Regions from separate parts of the Homo sapiens genome. Here all the other regions are reported to be linked to region 2. The links are microRNA targets in miRTarBase. Many come from high-throughput screens and were not tested one by one. Region 2 holds a microRNA gene; each other region holds the end of a gene's coding sequence.
The links. Region 2 holds the annotated microRNA hsa-miR-4693-3p (UGAGAGUGGAAUUCACAGUAUUU, at 2,900-2,922, shown strand). A microRNA usually pairs through its seed, bases 2 to 8, with sites in the 3' UTR of a target mRNA and lowers its output. Matches are read on the target gene's strand: a 7mer-m8 pairs with bases 2 to 8, a 7mer-A1 pairs with bases 2 to 7 and ends in A, and an 8mer does both.

Region 1: the mRNA of ARHGEF4 is a reported target of hsa-miR-4693-3p. The part of its 3' UTR that is shown has no 7-base or 8-base seed match.
Region 3: the mRNA of MRO is a reported target of hsa-miR-4693-3p. The part of its 3' UTR that is shown has no 7-base or 8-base seed match.

What each region holds. Positions count from the first base shown.
Region 1 is chr2:131,045,580-131,049,786 of GRCh38, forward strand. ARHGEF4 (Rho guanine nucleotide exchange factor 4) reads left to right here. Exons shown (of 14, transcript NM_001367493.1): 14 at 459-1,674. The coding sequence ends at 610. FAM168B (family with sequence similarity 168 member B) reads right to left here. Exons shown (of 7, transcript NM_001009993.4): 7 at 2,297-4,207. Among named protein-coding and RNA genes, the nearest start is that of SMIM39, 13 kb to the left of the region's middle.
Region 2 is chr11:103,847,052-103,851,293 of GRCh38, forward strand. MIR4693 (microRNA 4693) reads left to right here and starts at 2,855; the gene lies at 2,855-2,929. It overlaps LOC102723862 (a long non-coding RNA gene), which reads right to left and starts at 2,500. Exons shown (of 4, transcript XR_001748346.2): 1 at 2,363-2,500; 2 at 893-1,076.
Region 3 is chr18:50,795,511-50,799,752 of GRCh38, reverse strand. It overlaps MRO (maestro), which reads left to right. Exons shown (of 8, transcript NM_031939.6): 8 at 363-4,242. The coding sequence ends at 416. Among named protein-coding and RNA genes, the nearest start is that of MRO, 22 kb to the left of the region's middle.

The sequences.
Region 1 (4,207 bases), not on the chromosome of region 2:
TGTTCCCAAAGGTTGGTAATAAGGGGCCACTGGGGAAGCCTGGGTCAGTATATGGTTGACATTCTTACTCTCAACACCTTGGCTCCCCCAGATCAGGGCCATTGGTGACAATGCTTGTTTCCCCAGGGTTCCTTCCTGACAGGCATCTGGGGTTGGTGTAGGGATGGAGCTGCTTTCCCCATTTCTACAGAGAGCCATGCCCCTGAAACATCACATGCCTTTGCACAGGCCACCCCCCTCTTCAGGCTGCTGCAGGAGGCCAGGCCCAGGCCAGAGACCCCAGGCAGCCTGAGCTCTTGGATGTGGTCAGCTCTCCAGGAGCAAGTCCTGTGTGGCAAAACTGCCTCCTACGGCGGCTCTGAAGCAGAGCCCTGGGACGGACCCCATGCTGTCCCCAACAGCTGGGGTGGCACTCTGCCCTGGGCACCCATGACCCTCTGCTGTCTCTCCCTGTTCAGCTGTTGGCCGGCCCTGCTACCTGACGCGCCAGAAGCACCCAGCCCTGCCCAGCAACCGGCCCCAGCAGCAGGTCCTGGTGCTGGCGGAGCCCAGGCGCAAGCCATCTACCTTCTGGCACAGCATCAGCCGGCTGGCACCCTTCCGCAAGTGAACTGGTCCCTGCCTGACAGCACCTGCTGGGCCTTCCTGCCAGTGGCCCCCAGTTTTTCTTCCCCGAGGCCCACTCGGCCTGGCCTTCCTCTGCCTGCAAGTGAGCAGGGATGGGCTGGGGAGTTGCTTGTGCCACCAAGACGTGCCAGGTCTGTACTCCTGTTGTCTTTTTCCCTGCTCCTGGTGCCCTGAAGAGACCAGCAAGGGGGCAGACCCCGCACTCGCCACACCGCCGCTGCAGCTTGGGCCCCATCCGCCCTCTGGACCTGTGTAGGGCCTCACTGCTGGAGCGGGGAAACCGCAGCTCAGCCCAGGCCCAGCTGGGGAGAAGGCGCTACCTGCGTGGGACCCTCTTCTCTGGAAACCTAATCCTCCTTTCATTTCCTCTGGGCAGGACTCTCTGGCCTTCTGTGGCCTGCAATGCCAGGCCATGTGCCCCTCTGCCCTCTAGTTCTCCAAGTCCCCAGCCCGGCCAGTGGTGCCAGGCAGCTTGCCACTTGGGAGGGCAGAAGCCAGGAATTCCACACCCTTGTGTTGCGCCCGGAGCCCGCCCTTCGCCTCCCAGCCCCTCAAGACACCGCTGGCTGCTGGACACCCTCTTCACTTGTGTGTGTGTGTGTAGCGGAAAAGGACAAGACGGTGCAGTCGGCTGCATACTCCCAGTCGGGAGTGTGGTCAGTCTGCCTGCTGCTGTGCGGTAGCTCCAGAACCACCTCGTTCCTGGTTTTGTTTGGATTTTGGCATCTTGTTTTTCTAACAACAAACAATGGAGAAAAAGAATTGATTCTTAGTGACACAGAAGATTGCCTTACGCTCGTGAGCGTGAGAAGCCATAAGAGAGAGACCGAATTCTGTGGCTCAGCACACAGGACTGACCCACAGCCCAGGCAGCGGGTGTGTGGAGATGGCGCCCTGTCCTGCCAAGGGGCGCCAGGAGCAGAGCCAGGGCCTGGCGAGCTGGCGTGGAGCCCACAGGATTCAGCAGCATGGACAGTCACTCTTGCACTATTCCTTCTCCAAGCCAGAAACCACATTTAATTTCATAAATAAATTTATGAAAAGTAACCTGGCTGCTAGCCCGTTTTCTGTGGGTGTGCGTGCATTTTCCTGTGGCCAGCAGCCTCTAAAGGTGGGGTGGGGGCTCACCTGTCGCAGATCACACCCTCGGGGATTTAGTGGAGATGATAGGCTGAGGCGGGGCTGGCTGCAGTTGTTCGCCTAAGGCGAGCAGGGCCAGGCCATGCTGGTTGCTGATGGGGAATACAGGTAGCTCTGCCCTCCCTTGCACTCAAGACCCAGAAACCAGTGCTTCCCTGTGTTTGTTTGACTGGAGCTGGCCCACGTGAGTTTGGTGGGTGAGTAGTCAGTAATCTTTCTGGGCCTCAGCATCCCTGGTGAAATGAGGAAGAACGTGTCTTCCCAGGGTCTTCTGACCCTGGCCACAGAAGCCAGAAGGGGAGCATGGTGCTGCTTCCCTCCCTGTCCCACTTGGGAAAATGGTCCCCTGCAACCTGCTGCCTCCACCACACTCCAGCACTGCCAAGGTCACTGGGGCTGGACGCCATGGTGGTCTTCTTCTCAAAACCCCTGGCAATCTCCCAACTTGAGAGAAGCCCCAGCACCTCCCAGTCAGGCCATGCTACCTCTAGACAAAAACCCATATGGAGAAATCATGAAAACCACAATATGCAACACAAGTCAATCTTTATTGAAAACTGCAGTATTAATACATAACAATTCTTGTTACAATAAACGTGCTTTTGAGATTTTTAAATCTGAGCTCATCTCATCAGATTGCATAAAAAATTAAAATAGTATCAATTGACACCTAACTGAACTGGCTCAGGATGGAAATTCCATTCCTTGGCATGGATACGTAAGTTCAATGCAGAGGTGAGGGATGCCTTTAACACTGGAAGACAATGCTGACTTAGCTTAAAAAAAGTACCGAGAGAACGGTGTAAAAAACGGTATTTAAAAATCATTTTTAAAAAAACAAAAAGGAACCGTTTCTTCTTTAGTTACAATCCATGAGGCTCTCTAGGGCCTCTCCGTGTGGCCAGCACAGCAACCCTGCTAGGAGCACAAACGGCTGGCCTGAGATCTGGCCCAGCTGCCTTGCCCACTGGTCTGCACAGGGACTCATGGGCACAGCCTGTGGTGAGGAGGAGACACCTGTCATGCCAGTCCTGGGAGCACACCACCCTTCTGCAGGCCCGGGGGGGGGTCCCTACACAGACGCCGCTCATCCTCTGTCTCCCCTTCCCAAGTGACTTCACTTCAGTCCTGTGGACCAAGATAAGGCTATCCCCACAGGCTCTCTCTTCTTCAAATAATGAGTAGGAAAAAGAGACAAACTTTCTGAAACATGCAGTTTCCGACCCAAATAGGCCACATACCCCAACTTCTGTGTTACTTGGTCAGTTGAGCCCCTGGAGCCCTCAGGACCTACTGATAAAGCATGTCCTCTGCAGTATACTCAAGAGTCTGCTGCCCTTCAGAAAGCCAGAGGGAACACTCACAAATGCAGAGGTACTAGAGGGGAGAAATACGTGCTCTGCCTTCCCCCAGGCCAACCACACTCTGCTTTAGAGACCCTCTCAGAAAGCACCAGAGAGGAGGACCAGACGCTGCCACCCACCTCAAGCCACACCCCTGCCACCTGCTGCTGCGCCCAATGGAGGTCCTGTCCTGTCCGGGCAACAGCCAAACTGGCGACAATGGACACATCCAACAGTCAGCTGTCGGATAAGGTGAAGGTGGCCCAACTGCTCAGAGTAACACTGTTCTCAAATGTTTAAAAAGGACAGGTGAAGTCTGGGTCTCCTTTTTTAAAGCAGACACCAATACTTACATAACTAGTACATGTTGGCCTTTCACCAGCACTCACTGGCACTCACAGGTGCCTTACATACCTTACGGGGGCCAACACTGACAGGTATTAGTACGTCGCAAGTTGCTGTAATAATGTATTTCCTCTCGTTACTGTTGTGTCCCCCAAGACACATGCAAATTATTTCCTAGACCTCATTCATCACAGCCAGATGATGCCACCAGAAAGAGCAAGGTACTGTATGCCCAGCTGGGGAAGGGCAAGACACTCACTGACCAGGTGCCCACCCCAAGGCTCAGGACCACCCCCATTGCCTGTGAACACATTTGCATAGCACTCAAGAAGGTTTCCCAGAATAGCGACAGGTAGGCCTACAAACCACACCAAGAAGAACGTTCTTAACAGATGGCTCACGAGAGACATAAAAGGTTCTGGAAGTGCCTTCAGGCCCATTACCATGACTGGCCCTGACTCTGGCCCTCACAGAGCGGCAAGTTCATGGGTCACTGGCTCACACTAAATGCTCAGCCGCCAGCACAGATCCAAACAAGACCTCCATGAGCAGAGAAACTGCAGCGGCTGAACACACTCCCCAAGCCTCAGGGGAGAAGGTGTAGAACAAATATTTTTTAAATAGCCATCATGATGTCCATGTTTACATGAACTAGGTCCTTTGCTTACCTGCTGTCTCAACTTCTAAAAGAATAGTAATTCAGCTGAAGGACTCCCAAATTAGGAATGTCAAACACACAAAAAGCAAATTTC
Region 2 (4,242 bases):
TCAAAGCTAATAGGATGTGGATGTTTGTGCTGATTCTTGCAGCTGCAGTGAGCAGAGGAAATGTTCTGAGCACTTTCTCAAAAGGTTCTTCAGTATTTTAACTTAAAATCATCTTACAAAAGAAAAGCCTTTGTTGTGTTTATTTGGGGTCTATTTCATTTAATAGGTCTTCTGTATAGTGATTTGTAACTTTTATCAAAGTTGAACTTTTAATGCACATGTTACTTTCAGACCAAAGTCTTTATCCTGGAAGATGTAGCCTCTTTTTTCATTTTTATCTTGAAATGCCCCTTGGCACAAGCTTAGTTAGGAAGTTGAGTTCAGTGGAGAAAGGACGTATAGTTGATATTATACTGGTAAGCCAAGCTCTAAGTTCACCAAGTCTGTTTTTTTCATGTTAAATTGCAGGAGTAGTATTTGCCACATATACCTTATTGGATTGTTTTCAAAGTAATGCACAGGAAGTTGCTTTGTAAAAAATGACCACCATATTCATTATTATGAGTTGACTATGAATTTACTAAAGAGTACCTAGAAAGCGCTCATCTAGATTAGTCTATATGTAGTAAATTGTAATTAAGGAATACATACAGTTGCAATAAATGTGTATGATTTTATGTACCATCTCTCACTATCTTCTAGTATAGCTAATTCATATCTGGCATCAGTTTAGTGACCAAGACACCCTCTCCCTTTGCTTGGATTATTGCAATGCCTTCCTGCCTGGTCTGCCTGGATCCACCCTTGATATAAACAGCCCCAGCCACTCACCCCCAACCCCACTCCTGCTTACATATATTCTCAACCTAGCCACCAAATTATTTTTTTAATATAAGTCAAGTCATATTACTCTTCTGCCCAACCACCCCCAATGGTTTTCCTTCTCACTAACCATAAAAACCAAACGTCTTATAATGGGCTCTAAGACCCTTCAGAATTTTGCCTTCATCACGTCTCCATATTTATCTTCCATCATTGACTTGTTTCCTACATTCCTGCCACATCGGACTCTTCATTATTTCTTGTCCTGGCCTCCCCTTGAGCAAATTAAATTCTCAAAGCTTCAGCTTCCTTATCTGTAAAATAGGCATAAAAATAGTAATAACTATAGAGGACTTTTTTTTTCAGGATTAAATTAGTTAAAATGCTTAGAACAATATTTATACCTAGTGTTAAAATGTCAATATTATATTATCATAAGTTTTATTACCCTCATCTGATTTTTTGTAAAGTCTCTAATGATTTGACTCCTGAATTGACAATAATCTCTGAAAACTGTCAGAGGCGTTTGAACCAGAGCAACTCCATCTTGAATAGAAGCTGGTTAAATATGGTTGAAACCTACTGGGTTGCATTCCCAGATGGTTAAGGCATTCTAAGTCACAGGATGAGATAGGAGGTCGGCACAAGATAAAGGTCATAAAGACCTTGCTGATAAAACAGATTGCAGTAAAGGAGATGGCTAAAACCCACCAAAACCAAGATGGCAATGAAAGTGTCCTCTGGTCGTCCTCACTGCTACACTCCCACCAGCGTCATGACAGTTTACAAATGCCATGGCAAGTTACCCTATATGGCCTAAAAAGGGAGGGCATCAATAATCCATCCCTTGTTTAGCATATCATCAAGAAATAACCATAAAAATGGGCAACCAGCAGCCGTCGTGGATGCAGTCTATGGAGTAGCCATTCTTTTATTTCTTTACTTTCTTAAGAAACTTGCTTTCACTTTACTCTATGGACTCGCCCTGAACTCTTTCTTGTGAGAGATCCAAGAACCTTCTCTTGGGGTCTGGATCCTGGATTGGGACCCCTTTCCTGTAGCTGAACGGTCACATTACTTTGTTGCTTATTCATATGTTTAAGCATCTTTAAGATCCTCACTGCAGCGAAATAAAGCTCAGAACTTCAAACACTATAAGTATTCCCAGGCCCTTGCTGCTATGTCTTAGATATTTACAGCTTCCCCTGAATTCTTTTTTCTTTATCCTTTGTTTTGGGGAAGGTTGTTTTATGTTTTTCTATTCTCACTTATATTATTTCTCTCCATTTCAGTTTAATATTATTTTTCATTTTTCCTTAATATTCATAATTCAGTTTTCCCCCACACTTGGCACCCTACCCTCTACCCTCTGTCTTCAATTCTTTCCACAATTTTCGCTCCTTCCCTTTTTGCTGTCTCAAGTGAGAACATAGGCACATTTATTTAACCCCACTGGAAATCCTGTGTTTTTGTAGGAAAAGACTTGCTTTCTTGGCAGTGCTAAAAATAAAGTAATTACTGAAGGAATGCATGATGGGGCCAGTTAGTAACCTGATAAATGGAACTTGGATACAAAGCAGAGATGAATAAAAAGACTCACCTGGTCCAGGATACTGGCTTAAAATGAGCCCTGCAGCAAGGCTGACTTGATTATGAGCTCCAAACCAGGAGGCTTTTCTTTCCTCAGTCTAGGAGGCAGGAGTAAGCCTGACAGTGGCAAGAAAGTATCCTCAAGAGTGGGCTAGGGAGGGATGGGGTAAGTTGTGCTGGTAAGGACACCGTGGGAGCAGTGAGCCAGTACATTCCATTCTTACATTTTTTGGCTTTAAAAAACGGAAGGACAGAGCTATATTACTCCATTTCTATTTTGTGAAAAAGTGTAAGCTTAATAATTTTAAAACTCAAGGCTACGTTTGATTTTTCCAAAGCACAATTAAATAAAAAATAGCTCCCTCAGTGGCTCATACCTATAAGAAGCCAAATGGTTTGGATAAAAATACTATTCCCAAGTCACCAGCATCAGCCTGTATAAATAAAATTATTAGGACAGGCAAAGCAATTCAGAGGAAAGAGCATCGCTTGGGGGTAAAATGTTTAAAGAATACTGTGAATTTCACTGTCACAAATTCAAATAAAGTGAGAGTGGAATTCACAGTATTTAAGGAATCAATCCTTGCTGCTTCTGTTTATGAAGCCGAGCTTCAGTTTTCTTGCTCTGACAATGGACACAGTGATTACCTCAAGGGTTGCTGTAGGAGTTAGATGAGATATCTATAATGTAGGAAAGGTGTTTACTACAATGTAACTCATGGATAGGGGCCTATATTGGTTTTCCATTGCTGTGTAACAAATTTCCATAAACTTAGTGGCTTAAAACAACAGACATTTATTATCTTTCATTTCTGTCAGAGGTCCAGGCAACTGAGTGGTTGATATCTCTGTTCAGGGTCTCACGAGGCTGAAATCAAGGTGTCAGTTAGCTGCATTCCCCTCTAGAGACTTGACTAGGGAAGGATTCTTTTCCAAATTCCTTCAAGTTGTTGGTAGAAGTGTTTCTTGCTAGCTTCAATTAGGGATGGATCTCAGCAACTAGTGACCACTCTCAAGTCTTTATTATATGGCCCCTTTTATACTCAAAACCAGCAACAGAGAATTCCCCCTCACATCAAATCCCTCTCACACTTTCAATCTCTATGACTCAGAAACGGGCTCACCTGGCTAGGTCAGACCCACCAGAATATTCTCCATTTTGGCTAGCTCACAGTCGCCTGATGAGCAATGTAATCATAGCAGTGGTATCATACACACAGGTCTGCCTGCACTCAAAGGAGAGTGATTATCAAGGAATGCACACCAGGGGCGGCAGGAATCTGGCAGCTATCTTAGAATTCTGCCTGCCACCATTTCCATTAAGTGATTGTTGTTGTTTGTTACTGAGGCATAGATGAAGTAGCACTTATGCAGGAAAAAAACCACTAGTCAATCAGAATTTCAAGTTGTATGATGAGGTATTCCATAGAAATTAAACATGCGTATAACAGATTCTCATAGGTCAGGACACATGAAAAATTTAAGGAAAGGATGAGGACTCCTTAATTTAGAGGGACTTCTGAAAGGTGACTTAATGATGACCCAACACTATATGTGAAATCATGTTTGGCTTCAAAAGCACTGTGGGCAGAAAAGGAGAAAACGTTTAATCTAGAGTACACAGTTATGGCATTATCTGGAGGGAAGGATAAAGCTACAAAGATTGTTAAAACTAAAATTTGTTGCCAAGGGAGCCATTCGAGCTCTGTCTGGAGATCTTCTAAATGAGAGTAAATTATTCTGTACTTGAGGTGGTTTGGGCACTGTCCTCCCTGAAGCCAATGTAGAGATAAAGTGTTGTTTTCACTCCTTCTAGTCCTGTGATTCTGCGTCTAAGGAGGCAAACCACCTATTGAATCAGTGCTCACCACAGGCTCCATTGCAGCATTG
Region 3 (4,242 bases), not on the chromosome of region 2:
TTTTAGTAGAGATGGGGTTTCACCACGTTGCCCAGGCTGGTCTTGAACTCCTGATCTCAAGTGATCTGCCTGCCTCAGCCTCCCAAAGTACTGGGATTACAGGCATGAGTCAGCATGCCCGGCCAAGCCAACTGTGTTTTGATTGTAATTGACCCATCATACAATGTAAATGGCAAAACGCCTAGAGGATCAAGCACGAGATATATCGGCAGTTCCAATTCAGGTCACTAGCTGGATACAGATGATGCCTCCACCTCTCCTGCTTATCCACATGCCCTGCACTGATCACTGCCTACTAGTTACATTGTCAAGGAAGTTTGTTGAATCCTGCCCTCACGCGTACCTTTGCTAATTTCTTTCAGAGCCACTATCATCCAGAGATCCTGCAGTTCTTCTACGCAAATAAAATTCTGTAAGCGCAGAGCAGCAGGGAAATGGTTCTGTATGAGTGCATTGCTGAGCCATCATGTTCCCCTGTTTTATCTCACTGGATGCCTCTTCTCACTGCTTGCCTCTTGGGATTGTAATGGGAAAGAGGGTGCTGGGAGAGCAATCAAAGGCAAAAATAATACATGGAATTGTATGATTTTATCTAAAGTAAAATTCTAGACTGCTTTCACTTATTTCATTTCCTCCCCATACAAATTTGATGAGCAGGTACACACTTTCTTTAAAACATTCCAAGTGTATATAGATTCAGTGCTTATTTCTCAGCTTTTTCTTTCTTAAGTTCATCTCTGTCACCTAGCTTTTATTTTTAATACTCAATTTCTGAGGCTTAGGAGAATACTTGTTACCTTAAGCGTTTTTTTGTTTTTTTGTTGTTGTTGTTTTGTTTTTTTTTAGTGTATTTGCTATTGATACTTTGCTATTGATACCTTTACTTGCCAAGATTTATTTAAAGTTGGCCAAGATACCAAGAAGGTGGCTTGCAGGGGCATCTTTGGCTTCTCATAATTTTAAACAGTCATTGCTTTCAAGATCATGCTAAACAAGAATTAATAGAGAGAAAAAAATCTATAAAGCATGTGTTGAAAATCCTCAGGCTCATGATAACTTACGGGATAACAATAGTAGGTAACACCGAGTGCTTACAATTCAGTGGGCACGGTCAAAGTGCTTTTTGTAAGTTCTATTTAATACTTGCGACAACCCTGAGATAGTAAGTATTATTATTGTTCTCATTTTATAGATGAGAAAGCTAACACATAGGGAAATTAGGTAACTTTCCCCAGATAACTCAGTAAACAGTGGAGCTGGAATTCAAACATGTACGGTCTGACTTCTTGAGCCCATACTCAATAATCATGCCATCCTGCCTTTCCATGGAATAACTGATGGATGGTTAGAAATGTTAAAAACAAAGCAAATGCAAACATCTCTGCTTCTGCTCCTCTACTAAGCCCAGTTAACTTTTGATTTTATATGTACTAAGTATACATTTTTATTAATTTATGTGAGCTGAGTGTTTTTATTAATTACTTTTTGGCTATTAATGTCAATTATTTTGGTGATCAATCCTAGTTATCCAAGGAGTCACATCACTCGTAAAAATTACAAGAAAAATCTCTAAGTCCCTCTCACCCTCCCTCTAACCAGATTGCATCCCAAGCTTCTATAGAAACTCTGGTACCACCCCTGAATTCAGTATCCAGGCCACACCCGGAGCGTTTTGTTCAAGACAATTTAAAACACGGGGGATTATAAAAGCTATAGCTGGATCTTAAGTGGCATTCTGAGAATGAGGAACTCAATTTTCTGCTGTAGCTCCCAGGGACAGGGTGGTGTGACACAGATGCGGGGATGAGGAGAGACCTAGGCGAGATGAGGATGTGGGAGATGGCAGACAGAGTGGCAAGTGCCAGGCAGGAATGGATTTTCTTCCTTCCTGTTCTGAATCTGAAGAACATGACAGCAAGAGATTTTAGGAGGGACACAGGCTCACGAGCAAATGGGTGGTTCTGAGCTGTAAGCCCCCTGCCCCTCCCTAGCACCCACTCCCCGGATGCTGGCCTCTTTGAAATTTTGTTGCAAGGTTGGTTTAAACTTGATGCAGTTCCATTAAGTGATCAGTGAGTGGTCTGAGAAATGGCTGCATGTGGCTGGCATTCAAAAAGGTGGGGATAGGGTGAGATGGGTGGGGTTACGTGCTCTGGAGTAGAAAAACCTATGCAGTTAATGTCCCTCTGTCGGTTAAAATTGTGGAAGATGCGGTTGGATTATTTGACTTTAAGATTCAATGGTAGGCTTTTATTTTGGTGGCCCCCAATGAGTCATGCCTCCTGATACTCATGTCTTTATTTAGTCCCTTCTGTTTGAATCTGGGCTGCCTTTGTGACTTGCTTTAATCAGGAGATTGTGATAAATGGCACTGTGCCGGGCATAGAAACCCTGGCAGTTTCCTCGTTTGAATTGTGGGGGAAGCCAGCTGCCACATAAGGAGTTGAACTACCAGGAACAAATGAGAGTGCCTGAGATCACCATGTGAAGGAGAACGGAGACACCCAACCCACAGCAGAGTCTGAGGCCCGGACACATGACACAAGTTGTCCCTTCCAGCCAGACCCGAGCTGTTGAAGCTACTCCAGCTGACACCATACGGAAAAGAGACGAGCGTCTCCATCAAGCCTGTGTCAGTTGCAGAAGCATGAACAAAGAATCAAATGATTGTTGTTTTAAGTCATTAACCTTTGGGATAATTTGTCACACTGCAATAAGTAACCAGAGAAGATTCCTTATTATTAACTGTTGTCTTGGCTAATTTTGTTTTGCTCTTCATAAGTCCTCTTTGAGTTTAAATTCTATTTCCAGAAATTTATGTTATCATGAAATTTGGTGGCAAGAGCAAGGGACTATGTTTTTTTGTTTGTTTGTTTCTGTTTCTCACCATACCTACCACAGAGCCTGGCCATGTGATTAAGGAACATTTGCTGAATGACTAAATGATTCCAAATTGTAGAGGGAATAAAGTCCAATGTCCAGTCTGCCATTTCAGGCTTTCAACCTTCGTTTTCTTCTGTTACTCTCTTTGCTTCAGACAAGTTTGGGTCCTTTCTCTTCTCTCAACATGTCTTGTTCTCCTATACCCCCTCACCTTTGCTCAGTCTGCTATTTCTGTGTTGAGTCCCCTCCCTGCTCACCTGTACACACCCACCTGGAATCACATGCACACACACACACACACATTTCACGTGTATCTCTTATCTGTACTCCAATGCCTAGGTCAAAGTCCTGATCCCCCCAATCAGGGGAGAGCTCAAGTCTCTGAATTCCCAGAACATTCTAGCAATATTATACCACTTATATCTTATCTGAAAAGTTTTTTTTTGTATATGGCTTTATGTTTTTTTTTTTATCCTGTTAGATTGAAACTACAGAAGGCAGGGCTGTATCTTGTACATCATTGTATCTCCCCGGTGACTGCAAAAGTACTCTGTAAATGAATGTTGATTAGGGGGAAAAATGTCAGAAAGTCATCTGAAGCTGTCATTCCTTACTGGGAGGAGCCCATTTTGACAAATGAGGGTCACCAATTTCATTCCTTATAACCAATGTACAGGTTACTTTTATGCTTGTGCATTTCAAGTTTCCCCTTCCCCACGTTTATCTGAATGCCAACCCAAAGGTAATGTTTTGACATTTCTTAATTTTGAACATTAATTTTGAACCTTATTGAGCAGTTGAATGAAAGAAAGAAAAAAGGAATGTTCAAGTGCCCCGACCCTCATGCTAAGTGCCCAGGGTAGAGCTTTGCTTGGTCCCTGTGTCTCTGGTGCTCATGAGATAGGTCTTTCTTTCTTTATTTTTATTTTTGAGATGGAGCCTCACTCTGTCACCCAGGCTGGAGTGCAATGACACGATCTCGGCTCACTGCAACCTCCACCTCCTGGGTTCAAGCGATTCTCCTGTCTCAGCCTCCTGAGTAGCTGGGATTACAGGTGCCTGCCACCATGGCTGGCTAATTTTTGTGTTTTTAGTAGAGACGGGGTTTCACCATGTTGGCCAGGCTGGTCTCAAACTCCTGACCTCAAGTGATCTGCTCACCTTGGTCTCCCAAAGTGCTGGGATTACAGGCGTGAGCCACCGCTCCTGGCTGAGATAGGTCTTTCTTAAAGGGGAGAGGGAAGTGGTGGAGAGAGAGGAGAGAAAATGACAAAGGAGGAGGCTGAGAATCTAACAGGTGTGACCAATTCTGCTACTGAATGAGAGCAGAAGCCTGTGAACTTCCAGTTAATAGACCAC